Homo sapiens: one gene and its partner. The protein of the gene in region 1 purifies or fractionates together with the protein of each later gene. This does not show direct contact. Each region holds a gene or a part of one and is shown in the gene's direction. Other genes may lie near its edges.

Region 1 (3,206 bases):
GACCTTCCCACAGCCCTTTCTCCTCCTGGGCAGGTGGGTTTGAGGGGGTTGGCAGTCTGAAGGTCCTTCCCCTACTCCGCCTCTCAGAGTGGGTGTGGGCCCTAGACTTAGTCTTCGGGTCCCTGCTCCCAGGCCTGCCTCTGGCGCCCCAATGGCTACTCCAGGTGCTGAGCCTTTCTGCCCCTCACAATTGAGAGGTCCTCTTCCTGGGTTCTGCCTCACCCTGCTTTTCCTGTTTGAATTGTGGGTGAGCTTGGCTGCTCCATCACCTCCCAGGGCTTCAGTTTCCTCATCTGGAAAATGGAGATAAACTCAGCTCATCGTCTTGTGATGCCCGAAATTATGCACTACCTAGTGCATAGTAGGTGCTTAATAAACACGAGTCCTTTCCTTCAAAGGATCTGGGCTTAGAGCCCAGTGGAGACTGCCATGGGCTGGGGACAGTGGCATGTGCCTGGGAAGCCTTGGCATCACTCAGGCCCAGAAGACACCAGTGCTCTGAATGACACCTGCATAGGGGTGGAGACACTCTGCCTTGGGAGGGGGCTCTATACCACACATGGCTGGACTGGGGTCTGTGTGTGCCAGTCTGGATACACAGGTGGCCGACTCAGCTGCTTCTGGCGGGGAGATTGGTTTCTGCCTCCTCCTGCCTCTTTTCCAACTCTTTAATAGAGAGAGGACATAATGGAGTGTTCAGAGAGGCCTCTCCCCAAGACACCATAAACTGCAGGTCAGGAGCCAAGGTCAGGTGCTCCCACCCTGCCTCCAGGAGAAAGACTTTCCCCAAAAGGTCCTGTCATTCCTCAGCCCTTCTCCAAGGTATTACTGAACAGAGGCTGAAAAGGGTTGTCTTTTGGAAAGAGTGGTCACACATCCCACGGACTGGAGGGAATGTGTCCACCCTCCCACCCCCAACTCCCATCCACGGACAGGCTAGGGAAGACAGAATCTCAACCCTGGTCCTAGGGGCTGCCCCAGGAGTCTAGATCCAACCGCTTCACTTCCTCAGGAGGCTAGACCTGCCACTGGGGGGCTGTGGGGTGAACATGGGGTTCAGGCTGGGTACCCCATCCAGTGAGACCACGAATCTGAGCATGGCAACTGCCCCCTCAGCTCCTGCGAGGTGGAGACATCACGCACTGGCTGGGTATAAGCTCAGCGATCTGGCGAGGGTGGAAGGAGGGAGGAAGAAGGGCCCACCCCCTGCTGGCTCCCCCTCCCCCTGGGACTCCCCCTCCCTTTCCAGGCGGGGATATAAGCCCCACAAGGAAAGCGCTGAGCAGAGGAGGCCTCAGCTTGACCTGCGGCAGTGCAGCCCTTGGGACTTCCCTCGCCTTCCACCTCCTGCTCGTCTGCTTCACAAGCTATCGCTGTGAGTGGCTGGGGGCTCAAGCCTGGGGAAACCCAGGCTGTTTTGTGGGGAAACTGAGGCTGGGATGGTGGAAGCTGGGGGTGAGTGGTAGGAAACTGGATTGGAGGGGGCCATCGGAGGTGGGAAGGAGGCCAGCAGCGGGGGTGGGGGTGGGGAGGCAGGCAGGGCTTATGCTCCTCTGACATGAGGAAACTGAGTCAGGAGACGGTGCAGTGCCCAAGAACACACAGCAAGCCCGGTGGCTGAGCCTTGGTCCGGTACCAGCCCCAGGGAGAGCGTCGGAGCGCGGCCCCGACGGCAGCCGCAGCCTCCCGCCGTGTAGGGTCGAGGCTTGGAATGACCCACGTCCCAATGTCGCCTTCCCAGATGGTGTTCGTGCGCAGGCCGTGGCCCGCCTTGACCACAGTGCTTCTGGCCCTGCTCGTCTGCCTAGGGGCGCTGGTCGACGCCTACCCCATCAAACCCGAGGCTCCCCGCGAAGACGCCTCGCCGGAGGAGCTGAACCGCTACTACGCCTCCCTGCGCCACTACCTCAACCTGGTCACCCGGCAGCGGTGAGCGCAGGCGCGGAGCGGGACCCCTGGGGCTCTCACCCTGCGGCCCCGCTCCACCTGGGGGCGTGGCCAGATCTGACCACGCTCTTCCCTTCCCCGCCCCCAGGTATGGGAAAAGAGACGGCCCGGACACGCTTCTTTCCAAAACGTTCTTCCCCGACGGCGAGGACCGCCCCGTCAGGTCGCGGTAAAAGCGCCCGTTACCACACATCCTGCATCCGAGAGCGCGGCCTGGCCCTACCCTGGCAACATCACTTAACGACGTCTCCCAGGCTCGCCTCCCCAGATCCAATTCCTTCCCCTTCGCTTCCGCAGGTCGGAGGGCCCAGACCTGTGGTGAGGACCCCTGAGGCCTCCTGGGAGATCTGCCAACCACGCCCACGTCATTTGCATACGCACTCCCGACCCCAGAAACCCGGATTCTGCCTCCCGACGGCGGCGTCTGGGCAGGGTTCGGGTGCGGCCCTCCGCCCGCGTCTCGGTGCCCCCGCCCCCTGGGCTGGAGGGCTGTGTGTGGTCCTTCCCTGGTCCCAAAATAAAGAGCAAATTCCACAGAAACGGAATGTATGCCTTTGTATTTCCTTTCCTTTCTCCTTCGTGGAGGTGGCATCCCGTAGAAGTGGAGGGTGGAGGCGTGGGGGCCAGGGAAGAGAAAACCGACTTGGACAGAGGCGCCCCAGGACAAGGCTGGGGCGGGCTGCGGAGTTCCCTCTGCTCGGAGCCCAGGGAAGACTCGACCACCCAGCCTGGAGCTGGACAGCGCCCAGGCCAGGAACTGCTGTGGAAGGAACTCTGGTCGAGTGGGGGCAGGAGTGGATGGAACTCTGGAAGAAGGGGCGGGGAGCGGCGACAGGAGCCTGCTAGGCAGCCTAGGAGAGCAGATGGGGTCAGGGCTGTCCCTCCCCCACCCCGTGAAGCCGAAGACGGCTGGGGGACGAGTCGGGCACCAACACCCCGGGGCGTTTCCCCAGGAGCTGTAGTACTAGCGCCCAGGGCTGGAGTGGCTGGAGGTGAAGTGTAATCCAAAATGGGGCTGTGGAGGAAGAGCCGTGTGGGGGTGAGATGGCTGTACGTGTGCTGGCCGGAGAGGCAGGCCATTTCTACCGTCCCCCTTTCCCTGAGTAGAGGAGCAATGGGAGTGTGGAGGCTGCCCTATCCCTAAGAAACCTCCCTCCCCAATCTCGCTGAATTCACACGCAGTGGATAAGTCACGAACTGTTCTTTCTTAGTGACAAGGCCATAGGGACACCCTCCATGTACCCCCCTCCCCTGGACTA
Region 2 (3,819 bases), on another chromosome or scaffold:
GTACACTATTCTTGAGGCAAAACTGCAGCCAGAAACTTATCTGAAACTTATTCTATGATTACCATGCAAAATTGCCTTGGGAGTCTATCCTACGGAAACAATAAATGATTTAGTGAACACTGACTATTTTCCAAACTCCGACATTCACTAGGTGATGTTAGGGTCATTTACTCATGGGCACATGATTCTAATGACCAAGTTTTTATACTGTTGCTATCAAAATCATAAAGCATATTAAATAAGTCTCTCTTCATATATTTTCATATACCTTGTTCCTAGGTAGCTCTTAATATTTGAATTTTACTCGTATTTGAATGATTTTTAAAAATTGATGTATACTACTCCAACTGAACTCTTAAGTTCTTTAAAAACAAGGACTGTGGCTATAAGAAATCATTTTATCTCCAGTACCCTGCATAGACACTTTATTATTTAGGACGTAGGTCCTAAATAATTATTCAATGAATGAATAAAAATAATTACATACGTAAAGTGAGTTTTATGTCTGAGAATTGTAAAAGTATTAATACTCAAGAATGCATGTATTGTTTACCCACTGAAATATCTTCTGTGTAATGACTTATTCCATAGGAATCAAATATTGAGGAATATTGAGTTCAAACAATATGATAATGAAAACTTACGTTTTATTAAATGAATGAAACACTTTTAAACACTGTAAGACTCTTCACGAAGCCCTTTTAATACCACAACAACTTGCTGAAATATTTTCAAGTTTAGTTAGAATCATTGACAGGATACTTAAAGATTGGAAACTCAACAATTTAGGAAAGCAAACTTCTCTGGAAAAGACAGCAGCAGGTTAGAAAATTTAAATCAGCAAATGTTGAGAGAGCTATGCTATTACATAATATAAAACTTAACATGTGCAAACAGTACACTTTTTTTTGTTTTTTGTGTTTTGAGATGGAGTCTCACTCTGTCGCCCAGGCTGGACTGCACTGGCATGATCTCTGCTCACTACAACCTCCGCTTCCCGGGTTCATGCCATTCTCCTGCCTCAACCTCCCGAGTAGCTGGGACTACAGGCGCCCACCACCACGCCCGGCTAATTTTTTAATATTTTTTTTAGTAGAGATGGGGTTTCACCGTGTTAGCCAGGATGGTCTGGATCTCCTGACCTCGTGATCCGCCTGCCTCGGCCTCTCAAAGTGCTGGGATTACAGTTGTGAGCCACCGCACCTGGTCAACAGTGTGGTTTTTAACAACCTGCTACTAACAAAATATTAGGAATCCCTTCCTCAGAATTGGCATTAAAAACTTTAATTTATATAGCCCTCTTATTTTCATAAATAATCAAGCGTAAGTATATTTTCTTGTATTTAATGCAGGAATGTCTTGAAGGCAAAAACTATACTCCCCATGTTATAGGAAAGGAAACGGGTTCATGCAGATTAATTGTGTCCAAGTTCACATGGAAAGTTTTATAGAGACAAGATGCAAGTCTAAGTCTTCTGCCCTCTGGTTCATTGTTTTCACTGCATCACCAGAGTGCGATAGAAACTAGAAAATAAGGAATAGACTAGAGCTTGAGGGTTGTAGACATGTGTGAAGGAAAAAGAAGTTAGGAGGCATTTCACAATCAGAAAATTCCTATACTTATAAAATCATGGGAGGTTTCCTGGCTACTGTCTTCTTTTGCTCTATTTTTTTTGTTTTCTCTTCTTTTCTTTTCTCTTCCTTCTTTCTTTTCTTTTCTCCTTCCTTCCTCCCTCCCTCCTTTCTTTCTTCCTTGCTTCCTTGCTTCCTTTTCTTTCTTTCTTTCTTTTTCTTTCTTTCTTCCTTTCTTCCTTCCTTCCTTCCTTTCTTTCTTTTCTTTTCTTTTTCCTTCCTTCCTTCCTTCCTTCCTTCCTTCCTCCCTCCCTCCCTCCCTCCCTCCCTCAGGACAATATAGACACGGAGATGCCCGTGGAAGGAAGAGACCTGAGTGGTCTTCACTCACAGCAGTGATAATGGCTAAAAGCACCAAGGTCAAGTTAAAAAACTTTTTTTTCTTTTTTACTTTTAAAGTTTTGCCTCAAAAGAAATACATTTCTTTACTTCAACATCCTTTCAGGACTTACAATTGGGTGTTCAAAATATTTGAAATAATGTGTCTATTTAAAATTGTCAACCAGCTCAAGAGATATTACTAATAGCACCAAATAGTTACTGAAAATTAATTCTTCCATGCAATTGTAATTTTTAAATATATCAGATATTTATTACTGGGAGATAAGATTTGCTCTTTTAGTTCTATGATTTTCATTTTCAGCACAACTTTTTTGGGCAACAGTTTTTCTAACCAAACAGAAAAATCTAATATTTAGAGTGAAGAAAAAGTCTTAGCAGCTCATTTCTTTTCTTTTTTTTTAAAAAAAGAGAGTACACAATGTCAGTTAAAACAAAAATTTGAATTCTCACTGGTGACTATTAAACTATGTTTCAGTTTTTATTTCATGCCCAATCGTTTATGGTAAACACTGACAGAGTGATTCAGAATATAATATACAGCACTGAAGTTTCATCCCAGTGTGCTTCAAGGGGACTTCAAAAATCTTAGTCCAGGGCCCTTTGAGCTTCTTACAGCTTCCTGGAAGAAACACAACAAAGACAGAAATACAAGCATTGTGAACTCAAGGAGAAAATTCCCATTAGTGTTAAAGGAACTCCTTCAATGTGGAAAAGTATAATTTTAAGTATGGAAAAGACATTTTCAGGTCTTTTGTATGTGGTCCTAACTTTTTAGATGTGTTTCTCTCTCAGCATTTGTCAAATGTATTTGAAGTTCATTCAATCCACTTGGGCTGCATTTTGAAAGTGGCTTATGGAAATTTAAGCAGACAGTATCTATTAACATTAATAAAATTCCTAAGGCAAAATTCCCCCACACTGCATTAGCTCAATTATTGACCTTAGTATGAGGTTCTATTTTACTAAATATTTAGAGAGTACTCAATCCTTTAAAAAAAATCCCAAATGCTATTTCAATAACAGAATTTGATTAACCACATAAAATCGAAATAGTACAACTACCAGATTTGAAGGCCAGATGCAAAAACATTTTTGTGAAAACTCCCACCAGAATTGATTGGTATGTTTTTCTCATTGCATTTCTTCTTTTTTCAATGGGTGTATAGGCACAGCACTTGTGGTCCAGTGGGACCATGTACATCTCCAGGATAATTATAACCTGGGAAGCTTCACATTCCAGGCAACCCTGCTCATGGATGGACGAATCATCTTTGGATACAAAGAAGTAAGTGATGCGTTGATAATTTCTTTCCCTTCCCCTTGTTCTTGACTGCTGCCTTTCCTCCAAATGTCAAGAAAGGGACATTTTACAGCCATGATCCTCAAATCATTTTCTTGCCTCTTGGTTTCCTTTGCTTAATAAAAAATGTTTTGATTAGTTTTAATTTTCTGGGTGCATTGATTGTTAGCTCTTTTGTATTCTGATATTGTTGGCATCAGGACTCATCAATTTCATAAAATTATTGAGTAATTATATTGACTAATTATTGAGTAATTAGAGTGAAATGTCTCTAAGAAAAAAAATTCAATTTGGAGGGATTTCTCATCTAAATGTAAATGTTTATATTTACGTATTTTCTTTAGTTAGTTTTTTTTTTTTCACCTGGTTGATTTCTTTGTTATATTTTGGTTCTAATTTCAAAAGCATTTATAGACACGAAAACTTATGTGGCTCAAGGACCCAGTACTGAGAGAGTTCTAGGATGGCTGTGCTTTGGCTAATGTTTGTTGAAACCAGATAGGAAAGATTAATTAGAGACCTAAGTGACAGAAAAAACAAGGAAA

Evidence for each region.
Region 2: the proteins of PYY (region 1) and PLXDC2 purify together in Homo sapiens (affinity purification with mass spectrometry; one large-scale study listed by BioGRID and IntAct). This does not show direct contact.

What each region holds. Positions count from the first base shown.
Region 1 is NC_000017.11:43,952,019-43,955,224, reverse strand, and holds PYY (peptide YY isoform 1 preproprotein), read left to right. Parts: upstream 1-1,284; 5' UTR 1,285-1,375; intron 1,376-1,741; coding exon 1,742-1,929; intron 1,930-2,035; coding exon 2,036-2,116; coding exon of another isoform or gene 2,117-2,120; exon of another isoform or gene 2,121-2,244; coding exon 2,245-2,269; 3' UTR 2,270-2,492; downstream 2,493-3,206. UniProt on the Homo sapiens protein: This gut peptide inhibits exocrine pancreatic secretion, has a vasoconstrictory action and inhibitis jejunal and colonic mobility.
Region 2 is NC_000010.11:20,144,644-20,148,462, forward strand, and holds part of PLXDC2 (plexin domain-containing protein 2 isoform 1 precursor), read left to right. Parts: intron 1-3,140; coding exon 3,141-3,259; intron 3,260-3,819. UniProt on the Homo sapiens protein: May play a role in tumor angiogenesis.